3 separate regions of the Homo sapiens genome follow, and all the other regions are reported to be linked to region 1. The links are microRNA targets in miRTarBase. Many come from high-throughput screens and were not tested one by one. Region 1 holds a microRNA gene; each other region holds the end of a gene's coding sequence.
The links. Region 1 holds the annotated microRNA hsa-miR-4470 (UGGCAAACGUGGAAGCCGAGA, at 3,902-3,922, opposite strand). A microRNA usually pairs through its seed, bases 2 to 8, with sites in the 3' UTR of a target mRNA and lowers its output. Matches are read on the target gene's strand: a 7mer-m8 pairs with bases 2 to 8, a 7mer-A1 pairs with bases 2 to 7 and ends in A, and an 8mer does both.

Region 1 (5,869 bases):
ATTAGTCAGGCTTATTTTTTCTAGATAATCTGAAGTCAAGCTGTTTGGTGAAAATGACAGTTCATTTACGTGTTGAGATATGACTCATATGAGGATAATTGCTTTGAAAACACTGAGTAGGGAATGCCTTCAAAATCCTCCTATACTTACCAATATCCTTTCGTTGCAACAAATTTCACTAATATAATATGAAAAACATATAAATGAATCATGACCAGTTGAAATTTATTGTTTTCCACTATGGTCTTACTATGGCAAATAAAGATGAGGAAATACTCAGTTCCAGTTTGCAATAATAAAACTTCACAGTAGGAAGATTGCATAAAAATGAGAGGCATTTTCTAGGAAGCAGGTTAAAGTGGAATTTTTAAAACGATGCTATAGTAGGTATAAGTAAGTCCAGAAATATTAATTTGGAAGGAATTTGACTGGAGGTTGTAAAGGGTCATCAGAATGGAAAAAAAAGAAGTAGGGCAAATCGTGTCCTCCAGTTCTCACTTGCAAATCCCACTGAAGGCAGTGGAAGGTTTATGGAAATACCTGAAAGACACATTTGACCTAGTTCAAAAGCTCTATTAAATTAGTATTTTAATAAATTGTCCTAGATAAGTCTTGTCTTTATGGTCCTTTTAACATTATTTCACCCATAGTTTGCTTGAAAATTACAGAAAAGAGGAAAAGCTAACAAGGGACATTTGACTTCTCCTTTAATTTAAAAGATACTAAGATACTTTGTCTTTTTCACAACCATGCTGAGAAAATGTCCTTTGTAAAGAAATATATGAATCCTAAGTAAGCTTTGCGTTTTTTGATGCCCATAATATGGGAAGTACAGACAGATATAAAATGTATAGTTCTGTTACTTAGCTTGAGGGAATTCAGTCCCTGAAATGAAACTGTGTCTAGAACTGATGGCATCTGATTTAAGTTTTATTCGATAATACTGAGCACATAAATGTTATCATAGTTGTTTCCTCAGGATACAAGAAAGCGCTAGGTAGCCTCTTTCTTTCTGTGATTCATATTTACTAAAACCTCTATTTTGGCCTGATATTGCCCAAGATACACAGCAATGTACCTTGTCAGGGGTACCAGATTTAGTTTCTGGAAATGCAGGAGCAAAGCATCACTTAATGGCATTTTGGAGTTAGCTATAAAACAAATTTGATTTCCTTAAAAAGATAGGCTTTGATAAGCACTTACCACTGGGTTTCAGACCTATCTTTGAAGGTAGGACCAAGGAGGCTTCCTGGAGACATCCATTAACCGAAAAGGGAGCCAGGTGAGACTTTCTCCACTCAAAACTATGTCTTATCCAGGAGGAATAATTTGGAGTATAGACTCTGGAGCCAGTCCAACCAAGTTCACATCCCTCCTCTATCACTTACTAGCTTTGTGACTGTCCCAGCCACTCCAGCTGTGGCTGAAAGGCTCCAACGTACAGCTCAGACTGTGGCTTCAGAAGGTGGAAGCTCCAAGCCTTGGCAACTTCCACGTGGTGTTGAGCCTATAGGTGCACAGAAGTCAAGAATTGAGGTTTGGGAACCTCCGCCTAGATTTCAGAAGATGTATGGAAACGCCTGGATGCCCAGGCAAAAGTTTGCTGCAGGGACAGGGCCCTCATGGAGAACCTCTGCTAGGGCAGTGCAGAAGGGAAATGTGGGGTCAGAGCCCCCACACAGAGTCCATACTGGGTCACTGCCTAGTGGAGCTGTGAGAAGACTGCTACCATCCTCTAGACCCCAGAATGGTAGATCCACTGACAGCTTGCACTGTGCACCTGGAAAAGCCGCAGACACTCAATATCAGCCCGTGAAAGCAGCTGGGAGGGAGGCTGTACCCTGCAAAGCCACAGGGATGCAGCTGCCCAAAACCATGGGAACCCACCTCTTGCATCAGAGTGACCTGGATATGAGACCTGGAGTCAAAGGAGATAATTCTGGAGCTTTAAAATTTGACTGCCCCACTCGAATTCAGACTTGCATGGGCCCTGTAACCCCGCTGTTTTGGCCAATTTCTCCCATTTGAAATGGCTGTATTTACCCAATACCTGTACCCTCATTGTATCTAAGAAGTAACTAGCTTACTTTTGATTTTACAGGCTCTTAGGTAGAAGGGACTTGCCTTGTCTCAGATGAGACTTTGGACTGTGGACTTTTGGGTTAATGCTGAAATGAGTTAAGGCTTTGGGGGACTGTTGGGAAAACATGATTGGTTCTGAAATGTGAGGGCATGAAATTTGGAGGGACTGGGGCAGAATGATATAGTTTGGCTGTGATCCCATTCAAATCTCAACATCAAATTGTATCTCTCAGAATTCCCATGTGTTTTGGGAAGAACCCAGAGGGAGGTAATTGAATCATGGGGGCCGGTCTTTCCTGTGCTATTCTCGTGATAGTGAATTAATTCTCATGAAACCTAATGGGTTTATTGGGGGTTTCTGCTTTTACTTCTTCCTCATTTTCTCTTGCCACCTCCATGTAAGAAGTGCCTTTCACCTCCTGCCATGATTCTGAGGCCTCCCCAGCCATGTGGAACTGTAACTCCAATTAAACCCCTTTTTCTTTCCAGTCTGGGATATGTCTTTATCTGCAGTGTGAAAACGGACTAATACAGTGACCCTACTTTGTTTTATCTCTCTGAGCTTCCAGTATCTAATTTCTTTAAAAAATTGATATGACTACAGGGTTTTGTGAGAATTTAAGGGTAAAAATATCTTTGGTGTGGGGGGTGGGGGGTGGCTAGAGCATTGTGTTTTGAAATTTAGCTCTCATTTTTATTTTATATGAAGCACCATCACTCAGATTTATTTCTTAATCCAGTTCTCCACCTCCTTCATTGAGATAATATAATAGAGGGTTGTAAGGGGGCCCTGAATGGGAGAAAGGATATATGGATGCAGAAGGAGATGCCACAAGATAAAAGCTGAGAGAGCTACTTCAATAAAAACTCTGTGAACTCTCCCCTCCCACCGTCTCTTGATAATAGCCTAACACTATTTGACAAAAGGTAAAGAAAGGCATTCTCTTTATTCTGCAACATGACCTTTGGGGGGTTTCTGTGCATCATCAGGGCAGGGTCAAGCAGCATCCAACCATCCACAGGTGAAAAGGCATGGGGCCGGGGGGAGGCGGGAGTGCTTCTGAAGGCGCGGGTGGGTGGGTTTGTGGGGCTGGAAAAGAGGAATGAAACCAGATGCCACAATGCAACTGCTCTCTCTGGTCCCTGAGCCCTCCTGAGACACTCCCAGGGGTTGCTACGAAACATGATCAAGAGCTGTGGGTTCAGCAATTGACAGAAATGTATCAAATCACTAAGCATTTCTTGCTTGCCTGTTACACATTGGGCATGGTGTTAGCAATGGTGACACAAAGATGATAAAGACGTCGCTGATCTCAAGTCCTTGTCTGGTTCAACCACGTGCCAAGACATTTTAATACTCTGTTGGGAATTCTCAGGCAGCACAGGCCCAGGCGTTAGCAAAGCAGCCAGGGATTTCAGACAGAGGGTGCCATCCAGGGTAAGAAAATGAACTTTTTGTGTCACATTTGCATTTTCATTCCTTAACTAAGAGTATCTGAAAATACTGATGGCACAAACGAACTAAATTCCTGCTTCAGCACCAAATGGATGAACTACTACGGTTTAAGCATTGAACTAGTCCTAATATCACCATTCCAGAAATGTCTTAGTATTAATCAGGACAAGAAATAGGGATCTCTTTCGCAAGAAGCGAGACTGCACTCCTTCCTTTCCTTGTATACGGAAAGGGGACAAAATCCACAGTGAAAGGCCTAGAAGCGGCGCACTCCGCCCACGGGCGGCCCACGTGTCCACCTATTCCGCACCGCGCCCTGTCCCATCCCTATGGAGCGGGGTCTGCCAACGCTCGCGAGAGCCCTCTCGGCTTCCACGTTTGCCACGTTCCAAAGGACCGAGACAAACTGGAAAGCCGAAAGAGGCTCGCGCTCACAGGCAGCTGCGTAGCGCCCGAACAGCCCTAAGTGAGCAGGGGCGGGGAGCGCGGCAGGGTACCGCCGCCTCGTAAGGGCCCTTGCGATTGGGTCCCAGGCGCCGTCACTCAGCCTTCCGGGGGCGGGGCGAGGCCGGGAAGGGGCGTGGCCGTCGGGCGGCGAGCCGCGCGCTCTCGCCCCGGGAGGGAGTCACAGGTTCGTACACGCGAGGCCGGGCGCGCGCAGCCGGCAGGCGGGTGAAGTCTTCCCAGGTGCTGCAGGCGGTGCTGAGGCACAGGGTCTGCTGCAGGAGCAGCGGCCCGAACCCGCTCCAGCGGCCCGCCGCCGCCAGCGGTTCCCGCGTCGCGTGTGTACCCCCGCGCACTGAAGGAGGTCCGCCAGCCCTCACCAGCCCCCGCGGACCGTGCAATGGCCCAGCGTAAGAATGCCAAGAGCAGCGGCAACAGCAGCAGCAGCGGCTCCGGCAGCGGTAGCACGAGTGCGGGCAGCAGCAGCCCCGGGGCCCGGAGAGGTCAGAGGCCCTGCGGGGCGGGGATCTGGGGCCTCGCCTCGGGGTAGGGAGCCGGCTGGCGCGGCGGACGCTGCGGGTGCATCTCCCCAGGTCCCACCGCGCGCCGCCTCCATCCCCCGCGACGCTCCTCCTTTAGGCGCGCGGGGCGGAGGCCGCATTCGGCGGGCCTGGCGGGCGGGCGAGGGGCCAGGCGGACCGGGGTCCGAGCCCTCGGGATGCTAGTCTCGGGGAGCCCCTTCCCAGCGGTTCCTTCACCTGCAGGGCGCAGCCGAGACAGAGGTTGCTGAACGACTGTTTCTTGGCTTTCCGTGGAATTGAACATGGGAGTAAGAGAACAATTTATCGTTTGCCTTGCGTGTTTTGGGGAGTTGAAAATGAGCCAAAGTCAGGGAAAGTGAGTTCCTGCCTAACCAGCAGCGTTTCAGAGCAACTCAAAGGAGGTGAAAATGGGGGCGCCGGGGGGCAGGGGGAGGGAAGAAGTTGGGAGTGATTTGAATGCTCTCAGAAATTATTTTAAATATTTTTGCTTGTATGTAGCTTTCTTAATATGCGTTGCAGTTGCCTTTAAAATAGAATGTCATGAAATACTGAACGAGCGTCTGTATTTTTACCACTTTTACTTAAAATAAAAATCGATTGGATATTCACCTTTCTCCTCGTCCGTGTGCATATCCAGCAGAGAGAACAGATTTTTAAATCTGTTTCGTCTCATATTTCAGTGATTCTTGGTTTCTTTTATACTTCCTTTGACTCATATTTGGGATATTGAAACTGCAATACACATGTGTATGGAATGTGAGCTGTAAACTTCACTTGAAGTGATTTAGACTCTTTGTTTTCTGAGATCTTCAGATCATGCATTCATAATATACCAAGAAAATGAATCAGCTATAGTCAAAGAAGTATTTTCTTTATAGCACTTGTCACTATCTGAACTTGTCTTATTACTTTCATGTGTGTTGTCTTTGGCTCATTCTCTCTGTATCCCCAGCTCCTAGAATGTTCCTTTCCCATAATAGGTGCTCAATAAATATTTGAGTAGTGAATGAATGAATGGATTTAAATGGGGAAAGTAGTGCATTAAATCCATTGCACAAATTTACATTCTAAGGACTAATATTTGTATTCTAAAAGTAAAGATGTAGACACAGTTTGAAGTTCAATGCAAGCATATTAATTCACCTTTGACATAAGTGAAAGTTTGTGTTCCTTTTTCACTTGTTCTTAAATGTCACTTACTTAAACCTGCAGAGGGATAGATTAATTGCCTCAGCCGACTGAGGCTACTCTTTTTTAACATCCCTAAATGAGAATGGGTTCTTCTCATTGTGCCTCTAAGGGCACTAAGCAGAGAAAGCTGATGAACAACTTTAATGTTAGTTGT
Region 2 (5,869 bases), not on the chromosome of region 1:
ATGGACTTAACCAATGTTTGACAACTACCCAGAGCAAAATATTTCAATGTGGTAAATATGTGAAAGTCTTTCATCAATTTTCAAATTCAAAGAGACATAAAAGAAGACATACTGAAAAAAAACCTTTGAAATATATAGAAGGTGACAAAGCTTTTAACCAGTCCTCAACCCATACTACACATAAAAAAATTGATACTGGAGAGAAACCATACAAATGTGAAGAATGTGGCAAAGCCTTCAACCGGTCCTCACACCTTACTACACATAAGATAACTCATACTAGAGAGAAACCCTACAAATGTGAAGAATGTGGCAAAGTCTTTAAGTACTTCTCTAGCTTTACTACACATAAGAAAATTCATAGTGGAGAGAAACCCTACATTTGTGAAGAATGTGGCAAAGCCTTTATGTACCCCTATACCCTTACTACACATAAGATAATCCATACTGGAGAGCAACCCTACAAATGTAAAGAATGTGACAAAGCTTTTAACCATCCTGCAACTCTTTCTTCACATAAGAAAATTCATACTGGAGAGAAACCGTACACGTGTGATAAATGTGGCAAAGCCTTTATTTCATCCTCGATCCTTAGTAAACATGAGAAGATTCATACGGGAGAGAAACCCTACAAATGTGAAGAATGTGGCAAAGCCTTCACCCGCTCCTCACACCTTACTATGCATAAGATAATTCATACTGGAGAGAAACCATACAAATGTGAAGAATGTGGCAAAGCCTTTACATGGTCTGCAGGCCTCCATAAACATAGGAGAACTCATACTGGAGAGAAACCCTACAAATGTGAAGAATGTGGCAAAGCGTATACTACATCCTCAAATCTAACTGAACATAAGACAACTCATACTGGAGAGAAACCTTACAAATGTAAAGAATGTGGCAAAGCTTTTAACTGGTCCTCAGACCTTAATAAACATAAGAGAATTCATATTGGACAGAAACCAAGAACGTGACAAAGGATTATTTTATTATTATTATTTTTTTGAGAGGTAATTCTGCTGTTGTTTCCCAGGCTGGAGTGCAATGGCATAATTTTGGCTCACCACAACCTCCACCTTCTGGGTTCAAGTAACTCTCCTTAGTAGCTAGGATTACAGGGCTGCACCACCACACCTGGCTAATTTTGTATTTTTAGTAGAGATGGGGTTTCTCCATGTTGGTCAGGCTGGTCTCAATCTCCTAACCTCAGGTGGTCTGCCTGCTTTGGCCTCCCAAAGTGTTGGGGTTACAGGCATGAGCCACTGTGCCTGGCTGACAAAGCTTTTTAAGGAAGTTCTCAACCCTTATTACACATAATTCATACTGGACAGAAACCCTACAAGTGTGAAGAATGTGGCAAGCCTGTAACAAGTTCTCAATTCTTTTATTTTTATTTGTTTATTTATTTTTTGAGATGCAGTTTCACTCTTGTGACCCGGGCTGTAGTGCAATGGCATGATCTTGGCTTACTGTGACCTCTGCCTCCTGGGTTCAAGCCATTCTCCTGCCTCAGCCTCCCAAGTAGCTGGGATTACAGGTGCCACCACCATTCCCAGCTAATTTTTGTATTTTTAGTAGAGATGGGCTTTTGCCATATTTGCCAGGCTGGTCTCAAACTCCTGACCTCAGGTGATCCACTCGCCTCGGCTTCCTAAAGTGCTGGGATGACAGGCATGAGCCTCAATTCCCAGCCATAAGCTCTTAATTCTTAAGAGACATGGCGATAATTCATGGTGAAGAGGAACTTTACAAACCTGAAAGATGTGACAGTGCTTTTCCCAACACCTCCAACTTTTCTATGCATAAAAAAAATTATACTACACCATAGAAATGTATGAAATGTGACAAAGCCTTTATATGGTTGCCACACTTTATTGTAGGTAATTCATACTTCCAAAATACCTACAAGTATGAAGAATGTGGCAAAACTTTTAATCAGTGCTTACACCGTATTTCACAGGAAAGCTATTATCCTTGAGAAAAATTGTACAAATATAAAGAATATGGAAAAGCCATTAATGTCCATCACATCTTACTCAACAGAAGAAGGTTCATAAAAGAGCAATTACTGTGACAAAAATCTTTCAGAAAATATAAGCCTTTAAGGTGAAGAAGAGTATTGATTCTGAAGACAAGCATTACAAATATAAAGAGGTTTGTAGTACCTTTGCTTGTATTACAGATCTTATTGCCCGCGTTTTGTATTAGAAGGAAACCCTAAAGCGGTTGCCAAACTTTGTGCAACATCAGGGAATGTATATTGAAGAAGATTCCTGCAAATGTAATGAGTTTGGAAACACTTCTTAGATAAATTATTTGTGGCTGGGCACAGTGGCTCATGCCTGTAATCCCAGCACTTTGGGAGGCCAAGGTGGGAGGATCACCTGATGTCGGGAGTTTGAGATCAGACTGACCAAAACGGAGAAACCCAGTCTCTACTGAAAATATAAAATTAGCCATGCATGGTGGCACATGCCTGTAATCCCAGCTACTCAGGAGGCTTGAACCCTGGAGGCAGAGGTTGTGGTGAGTCGAGATCATTGCACTCCAGCCTGGGCAATAAGAGTGAAACTCTGTCTCCAGGAAAAAAAAAAATTTATTTGTGTATAACTTTAAAAGCAGATTTTTGGAAGCATTGTAATTACATTAAAAGTATACTTGTTCCAGCTGCGTGTGGTGGCTCATGCCTGTAATCCCAACACTTTGGGAGGCCAAGGCAGGTGGATCACGAGGTCAGGAGTTCAAGACCATCTTGGCCAAGATGGTGAAACCCTGTCTGTACTAAAAATACAAAAATTAGCCATGCATGGTGGCCGGCGCGTATAATCCCAGCTGCTTGGGAGGCTGAGGCAGAGAATTGGAATTGCTTGAACCTGGGAGGTGGAGGTTGCAGTGAGCCGAGGTTGCACCATTGTCCAGCCTGGGCAACAGAGCAAGACTCCATCTCAAAAAAAAAAGTGTATTTGTTTCCTTAAAAAAATTTTTCTGAAAAGTGGGTAATGACATAATACAGCTTTCAAATTACTTTATGCTGTTATTTTATTCTTATTGTATTCACATGTGAAAGCATGTGATCAATTTTTGCTGCATCAGAGATATTAGAGATAGTTTTTTATTAATTGGGCATTTATGACCTTTTCTATAAAAGTAAGGACATTAAAATGTAAGATGCATGATGAAAATATAAGTGGAGAGGCTCTTTGTAGTTAACCTATATGAAGTAATGTATAAGGTAGGTCAGAGTAATACTTTTCTACATTATAGTGCAAGAAATAATTATTGATAAAAGTATATTAAACTAAATTCGTATATTTTACTTATTGTACTTTTATGTAATAAAATGCAGTGCATTTAAAAATTGTTAGATTATGTGTGAATTTAATTTTATGTTTTTTACCATGTTAAGACTATTGTGCATTTAATGAAGCATTATTATGCCACTAACCTATCCCACCTTACTCAAAGGTGTAGGTAAAAGATGGTAGCAATATACTATTTGGTACATAATGGAATAATGTCTCTAGTAATCACTTTGCCAGTGGCTTTAAACAGCAAATGAATTTAAGAATATTGTTCCCATAGGTTAAATTTTTATTCTCTTTTCTTACTGAAATTTATTATTAGTATTTGTGAGTATATAGTATATGTATATATTTATGCTTTATATGGCATATTTTGATTCAGGCCTATAATATGTAGTAACTACATTAGGGTAAATAAGGTATCTATCACCTCTAGCATTTATCCTTTGTATTAAAAACAGTGTAATTATATACTTTTAGTTATTTTAAAATGTACAATAAATTGTTATTGACTACAGGGTTATTTTTATGATCATAATAAAAATTATACAGAAATATAAATAAAATACAGCCAGGCCCAGTGGCTCATGCCTGTAATCCCAATACTTTGGGAGGACAAGGCAGGTGGATTGCCTGAGGTCAGGAGTTCAAGACTGGCCTGGCCAACGTGGTGAAACCTCGTCTACTAAAAATACAAAATATAGTTGGGCATTGTGGTGCATGTTTGGAGGCTGAGGCAGGAGATTCACTTGTAACTGGGAGCTGGAGGTTGCACTGAGCTGAGATTGCACCACTTCACTCCAGCCTGGGCAACAGACTCAATCTCAAGAAAAAAAGAAATAGAAATCATACATATACTGAAAACTTATTAATAAATGTTTGTTATATGGTTTTCTTTGAACATGTGGTCTTTGCCTGCAAATGTAGACTTTCAGTGTTAATTTACATCAGTTAAATATACACATATTACTCTGAAGATAAACCTTAGATGTAAGAAACTTATGGAGTGTGTTTGTGTGAGCATGAGATTGTACATATTTTCAGAAGAAAAGAACAATTATTGGAACAAAACAAATTATTTTAATAAGGTGGCTAATAAAAAACTAAGCTCCTTGAGAATGCTGAAAGCAAATCTATGCTTTCTGCTTTGTCTTGAATTTATTAATATAAAATTTTATGGCTTATGTTTCAAATTTTTTTCAGAATCTGTCTATTAAAGTACAGGCAGCTTTGTCTCCAGAAACAACGCTCTTGAGTACAACAATAAAAGCCCTCTTCAAACAGAAAACAAATAATCATAGTTAACACTTGTTTTAATGAAAATTCAACCAAAATTAAATAATTAGATATATTTTTATTGTCCTATGTGTGTGTGAATGTATAAAATGGTGCATAAAGGAAAAATATGCCAGAAAAAAAGTTAATATTTGTAATGAATAAAACTGGAAATTAGTTCATTATTTGCAGGTGATATCTTTGTTTATGTAGATAACAAAAGCAGCAGAAAACTTTCACGGAGTCTCTCTCTGTTGCCCAGGGTGGGGTGGAGTGCAGTGGTGCGATCTCGGCTCACTGCAAGCTCCGCATCCCGGGTTCACGCTGTTCTCCTGCCTCAGCCTTCCGAGTAGCTGGGACTACAGGCGCCCGCCACCACGCCCAGCTAATTTTTTGTATTTTTAGTAGAGACGGGGTTTCGCCGTGTTAGCCAGGATGGTCTTGATCTCCTGACCTCATGATCCACCCGCCTTGGCCTCCCAAAGTGCTGGGATTACAGGCGTGAGCCACTGCACCCGGCCAAAACCTTTTTTTTTTTTTCCAAAGAATTATAAATAGAAGATTCTAAAGAGAAGTTTTTAATAAATAAGCATTTAAAAGAAACTAGGGTTACTTGTTATGTTTAAAATATATGCTGTTCTCACACAAAATGAAACTGCTGAAATCCAAATTTAGAAGCAAAGAATAGACTTAAATTGTTAAACATAGAAAATATAAATATATACTTTGAAGAACAGGATTAGGCACCTTGATACGTGAAAGAAAATATTAGGAAATAAACTATTTTATTCTTCAGATACAGGCTGAAGAAAGTAGATGAAAACCCTGTAATTCCTTTTTGCCTGCAGCAAACTTAAATTTATAAGTAATTATTTTGGTAAATATGGAGTGCCTACTAATTATGTAATTTACTTCATGCATAACATGCAAATTCTAGCATATTGTCATAAATAAATCTAAAATTACAGACAAATTTGAAATAGAAAATAGTCAAAATGTAGAGGGCGAGTGACATCAGTAAGATGAAAGATTAAAAGTTCCCTAATTTTATATCCCCTTACAGCAAAAAACATCGGCCATCCCTGACAAAAATGCCTTTATTGGCTGGGCACAGTGGCTGATGCCTTTAATCCCAGCACTTTGCTGAGATCTGCTGAGACGGGCAGATCACGAGGTCAGGAGTTTGAGACCAGCATGGCAAACATGGTGAAACCCTGTCTCTACAAAAATACCAAAAAAATAGGCAGTCATGGTGGCACACGTCTGTAATCCTAGCTACTCAGGAGGCTGAG
Region 3 (5,869 bases), not on the chromosome of region 1:
TATTTCATTATACCAACCTTTGTCTATATGCCTAAGCTCTCTATGCCTTGGTTTCAGTCCCTAGACAAAAGGCTAACATATTAGGAATTCTGTTTTGCACCCTTCACAAAAAGGTAGCTAAACATGAAACATTTGGTTAATCAAAATTAAGTCATTCATATGTATAGGTCTCCCTGCCCATATTCCTGTGTTACCTGGTGATAGCCTTTTGCCCAGCAGACAGGTGAGCATGGTCATCTTAATGCCACAGTAAAAAAAGCCTCTCTACTACTCCTAACTTGATGATCACAAAGCAGGCCCTATTATAGTATGTTCTTCCCGCTCCCCCCTCGCCCCCCGAGATGGAGTCTTGCTGTCGCCCAGGCTGGAGTGCAGTGGCACGATCTTGGCTCACTACAACCTCTGCCTCCCAGGTTCAAGCAATTCTCCTGCCTCAGCCTCCCGAGTAGCTGGGATTACAGGTGCCTGCCACCACGCTCAGCTAATTTTTGTATTCTTAGTAGAGACGGGGTTTCACCATGTTAGCCAGGATGGTCTTGACCACCCACCTCGGCCTCCCAAAGTGCTGGGATTACAGGTGTGAGCCACTGCGTCCGGCTATAATATGTTCTTAAGTACAGTCCTAGTCCCTTTCAGTTTGAAAGTTTTGTTTTTAATCTTGCTTTAAATAAGTGGTTGGGTCTTAGATATTTTAAAACTTTAATTTGAATATAATTTTTTTTTCTTTTTTAAAGGTTTTTGATGACTGCCACGAAGGTGGTGAGATTTCACCATCTAACTGTATTTACATGACAGAGTGGCTCGAATTTTAATAGAGAGCTATGAACTTTATTGACATTTTGCAAATGAAGTTACTTAGGGAGCAGATAATTTAATTCATGATGGAACACGAAATCTCCTTGAAAGCAAACTTCACAATAATGGACGTAGACTTGCTGCTATGAAAACATATTTTTTTTATTTATGAAGACTAAATTTATATTGGTAAAATAGCCAGTAGAATATGAAAGAAATAAGGTTAGTAGTGAAATTCATTCTTCAATAAATAAAACACTTTGAAACTCCGGAGGACCACATCTTTCAAGACTTCTGATGGGTCAAGGAAAAAGATGCCAACATACCCGTATTTACCAAGTACTATGATAATGGCTAGAGTATAAAAATGTTCTTTTTAAAGTTATTTATTAAGTTCTTCATTGGAAGTTTTTTTTTATATCTGGTTCACTACCACCATTTTCTGTTTCCTACTTTCTCAGTGGTTTCATTGAAAAGAAATTAGAAGGGGTTAAAGGCAGGAATAGCAAAGAGTGCAAACTTGGGGTATGACTGGGGGAGAGTGGAACATGCCTTTTCCGCACAATATTAATTCCTTTTTGTATCAGAAATGTTCTTTTAGGAGATTATGCTACCATACTTACTTCAAACCCAATGACTACTGTCAAGGACATATTTTCAGTACATAAATACTATCATTTTCATTCTAAAGAATATTTTCACTGTTCCTTCTTTCTTAAAGTCTTATGTTTCACTCTTTAACTCAAATGTATTCTTTGTTAGAATTTACCCTAGATTCTTATTTAATGTCTGCAGTAGACTGAATGTTTGTGTGCCCCCAGAATTCTAATGTTGAAATCTCATTTCCAATGTGATGGTATTTGGAGGTGGGGCTTTTGGTAAGTGATAGGTCAGGAGAGTAACAGCGCTCATGAATGGGATTAGTGCCCTTATATAAAGAGACCCAGAGAGCTCCATCACCCCTTCTGCCATGTGAAAGGGAGAAGACAAACATCCACGAACCAGGAAGTGGGTCCTCACCAGAAAACAAATCTGTAAGCACCTTGATCTTGGACTTCTCAGCCTCCAGAATTGTGAGAAATAAATTTCTGTTGTTGATAAACCACCAGTCTATGGTATTCTGTTATAGCATTAACTGAAACTAAATATACTCCGTGCCCTCCATTCACACTTTATTTTGAGAGAGGGGATAACATTCTTTTTCTCTTACTCTGTTTTAGATTTATTTCCCTTCCTTATTCTGTTCTAAATCATGGTGTGATGTGTCTAAGCAGAAAGCCATTATAATTGTCCTCAGTTCTAATAACACTTTCAGTTCCTATGGTCAGCCACATAGAAAACACTAGGTTATTTGATGTATTGTTGCACAGAAGTTGACTGTGCGGCTTTTTAGAATTGCAGCTTCATATTTTCACTTTGTAGCTCCACTTAGAAGTTTCTGTATCCAAGCCAAAAACATGGGACCCATGGAAAGGAATTCAAGCTCCACTAGTACTGAGGGTTGGGTTCTAATACCAGTTTGGAGATGCTCTAAGTGGATATCAGAAGAGTTATTTTAAGATAAATGGTATCAGTAAAATAAAATTCAGGCCACATTCTGTGAATTAGCATTTGATGACACTAGCTCTTTGTAACAAAAATTATTTCAAGTATTGAATATACATACATATATAAGATACACAGCCTTTTGGCCAGAACCCCCATCTTCCAGTAATTTGCCAAAATGATGAACACAAACGGAAAGAGGAGAGGCACCCGATATATGTTCTCTAGGACTTTTAGAAAACATGGAGTTGTTCCTTTGGTCACGTATATGCGAATCTATAAGAAAGGTGATATTGTAGACATCAAGGGAATGGGTACTGTTCAAAAAGGAATGCCCCACAAGTGTTACCATGGCAAAACTGGAAGAGTCTACAGTGTTACCCAGCATGCTGTTGGCATTGTTGTAAATAAACAAGGGCAATATTCTTGCCAAGAGCATTAATGTGCATACTGAGCACATGAAGCACTCTAAGAGCCGAGATAGCTTCCTGAAATGCATGAGGAAAATGATCAGAAAAAAAAAAGAAGCCAAAGAGAAAGGTACCTGGGTTTGCCAGGGATGGTGGCTCACGCCTGTAATCCCAGCACTTTGGGAGGCTCAGGCGGGCAGATCACGAGGTGAAGAGATCGAGACCATCCTGGCCAATATGGTAAAACCCTGTCTCTACTAAAAATACAAAAATTATCTGGGCATGGTAGCGCACACCTGTAGTCCCAACTATTCAGGAGGCTGAAGCAGGAGAATCGCTTGAACCTGGGAGGCGGAGGTTGCAGTGAGCTGAGATCGCGCCACTGCACTCCAGCCTGGTGACAGCGAGATTCCGTCTCCAAAAAAAAAAAAGAGAGAAAGTTACCTGGGTTCAACTGAAGTGCCAGCCTGCTCCACCCAGAGAAGCACACTTTGTGAGAACCAATGGGAAGGAGCCTGAGCTGCTGGAACTTATTCCGTATGAATTCATGGCATAATAAGTGTTAATAAAAGATCTCTGGACTGTAAAAAATTATATATATAAATATATATAAATATAAATATATATATAAATATATATAAAAATATATATGTAAATATAAATATATATATATGTAAATATAAATATATATATATATATATATATATATATATATATATATATATATATATATATATATATATGAAGGATCTGGGAACCTGAAACTACAGACAGAGGGTTTCTCTTCCACCCTCAGTGAGAGTTGGAATGGTAAGAACAATGTCTGTCCTTCCTGGGACTTGGCCTATCAAAAAGGCACTAGTTTTATGTAGTAAGAAAAATGAACTTGGAAGAGAGCTAGAAATGAGAAGAAACCAGCTTGTATGTTTTAAATATAGACTTTGTCTTATGTCTTTATAGCTAAAGATTGGTTTTTAGAGCTTAACATTCAATGGCTAAAACAAAAGTATTCCTTACCTCACCAATAAAGAGAAACTTCAAGCTTTTTTCCCATGGTATGTTTTTAATTCTGAAAATTAACTGAAGGAGACAAGAGACAATTTAAAATTACAGCACCTCTGATGAATAGTTAAATGGATCATTTATCCTACAGGGATAAACTGTAACCAAAACAGATTGTGGGGCTCTAGACTCCGGACAGCACCAAAAATTCAAGTTGCATATGAAGTCCTAATACTTACAGTTGATTTCCATTCAGTATTCGGTATTTTGCTCACCTGAGAATAGATACTCCCCAGAGTGTATAGAGGCCCCTGTATATTCAATGATGACCACAAAGAATCAAACAGAAATCAGAAATGACAGTCCATGGCTCTATGGTTTTTAATGAATAGTTTGTGTAGATTTTCCCATGAAACACCCCTGATCTTAGTTGGGTGATTTATAGACCTATGATGTTGGTGGTGATCAGCTAAGCAAACTAGCCAAACAGAAGTAATTTCAAATTAAGTCACTTTTACTTTGTGCTATTACTCATTATTGGATGGTGGGTGAGGGGAAAATACAAAATATATGTCCTAGACCAATGTTGTCCAATAGAGCTTTCTATAATGACGGAAATAGCCTATATTGGCTGGTCAGTAAGGTAACCAATAGCCACCAGTGGCTGTTGAGCACTTGAAATATGGCTAGTTTGACTGAACTGAATTTTCAATTTTACAGCTAGCTGTGGTTACTGGTTACTATATTTGGCAGCAAAGTTCAACAATCCTATAGGTCTATCTTAATTACTTTTATAGGAATGAAGAGTATCAGAATTATTTCTCAATTATATATATTTAGTTTTCATTTCTACAGAGAAAGAGGTCAACAAAGTTTTGTGAACTAAATTGTATAAGTTTCTTTTTTAGGAAAGGACTTCACAGAGAACAAGGCAAAGAATAAGTAATACAACAGCAAATTTCCAAAAAATTCAAGTAGAATCAAACTTTGACTATAGATTTGGTCAAATTAGTGCTAAACAGCCTCTTTAACAACATTATTATTCAACTGATTTATATAATTTGCTTTTTAGTAGTCAAATACATTGTTTTAAATCTTAATTATTTTTGATTATAAAATACATGCTTAGTGTAACAAATTCAAATAATCAGGAGGATAAAGTAAAATAAGGGGCCGGGCATGGTGGCTCATGCCTGTAATCCCAACACTTTGGGCGGCTGAGGTGGGTGGATCACTTGAGGCCAGGAGTTCGAGACCAGCCTGGCCAACATGGTGAAACCCTGTCTCTACTAAAAATACAAAAATTAGCCAGGCGTGGTGGCACATGCCTTTAGTTCACACTACTTGGGAGGCTGAGATGAGAATCACTTGAACCCGGGAGGTGCAGGTTAGAGTGAGCTGAGATTTGTGCCACTGACCTCCAGCCTGGGAGACAGAGCAAGACACTGTCTCAAAAATAATAATAAGGACGTCCACCACACTTTACCTACCAAAATGCCCATTCCCCAAAGATGATTGCTGTTGAACGATTAGGGTACCTTTCCTGATTTTTTTTGTCTAAGCACATTTAAAAACCAAGACTTTTGGTTTTGAGCGATAGCTCTGAATCTCCTTTAGGTATGAAGTGTAGGAAATTGTATTTCTGCAGCAAACTTAGGCTTTGCAACATCAAGTGTGGATTCACTGGAAATTATTTGAAGGAACACATAGCGATCATAATAGCCAAAAAATGTTGGGAAATGAAAAAGGGTGGGTTTTTTTAATTAAAAAAAAATTTTTTTTTTTAAGAGACAGGTTCTTCGCTCCATCACCCAGGATGGAGTACAGTGGCGCGATCATAGCTCACTGAAGGCTCAAACTCCTGGGCTCAAGCAATCCTGCCTCAGCCTCCCAAGAAGCTAGGACTACAGGTGTGCACCACCATGCCTAGCTAATGTTTTAATATTTTGTAGAGATGGGGTCTTGCTGTGTTGCCCTGGCTGGCCTCAAACACCTGGCCTCAAGCAATACAACCACCTCAGCCTCCCACAGTGCTGGGATTACAGGCATGAGCCACCACACCCAGCCAAAAAAAGGTTTTCTGAGGAAGTATGATCAGAAGAAAATGGAATGTGCTT

Region 2: the mRNA of ZNF486 is a reported target of hsa-miR-4470. Seed matches in the 3' UTR shown: 7mer-A1 at 1,588-1,594 and 7mer-A1 at 1,597-1,603.
Region 3: miRTarBase lists POLR3F as a target of hsa-miR-4470. The part of its 3' UTR that is shown has no 7-base or 8-base seed match.

What each region holds. Positions count from the first base shown.
Region 1 is chr8:61,712,885-61,718,753 of GRCh38, reverse strand. It overlaps MIR4470 (microRNA 4470), which reads right to left and starts at 3,966; the gene lies at 3,895-3,966. ASPH (aspartate beta-hydroxylase) reads left to right here and starts at 4,162. Exons shown (of 25, transcript NM_004318.4): 1 at 4,162-4,485. The coding sequence starts at 4,383. RefSeq lists silencers at 3,953-4,322, 4,363-4,792.
Region 2 is chr19:20,197,129-20,202,997 of GRCh38, forward strand. ZNF486 (zinc finger protein 486) reads left to right here. Exons shown (of 4, transcript NM_052852.4): 4 at 1-3,360. The coding sequence ends at 974. All of the region lies in intron 5 of LOC105372310 (a long non-coding RNA gene), which reads right to left. It also overlaps the pseudogene LOC100419841. Among named protein-coding and RNA genes, the nearest start is that of ZNF486, 33 kb to the left of the region's middle.
Region 3 is chr20:18,482,747-18,488,615 of GRCh38, forward strand. POLR3F (RNA polymerase III subunit F) reads left to right here. Exons shown (of 9, transcript NM_006466.4): 9 at 735-1,900. The coding sequence ends at 812. RBBP9 (RB binding protein 9, serine hydrolase) reads right to left here. Exons shown (of 5, transcript NM_006606.3): 5 at 3,794-5,869. It also overlaps the pseudogene RPL21P3. Among named protein-coding and RNA genes, the nearest start is that of RBBP9, 12 kb to the right of the region's middle.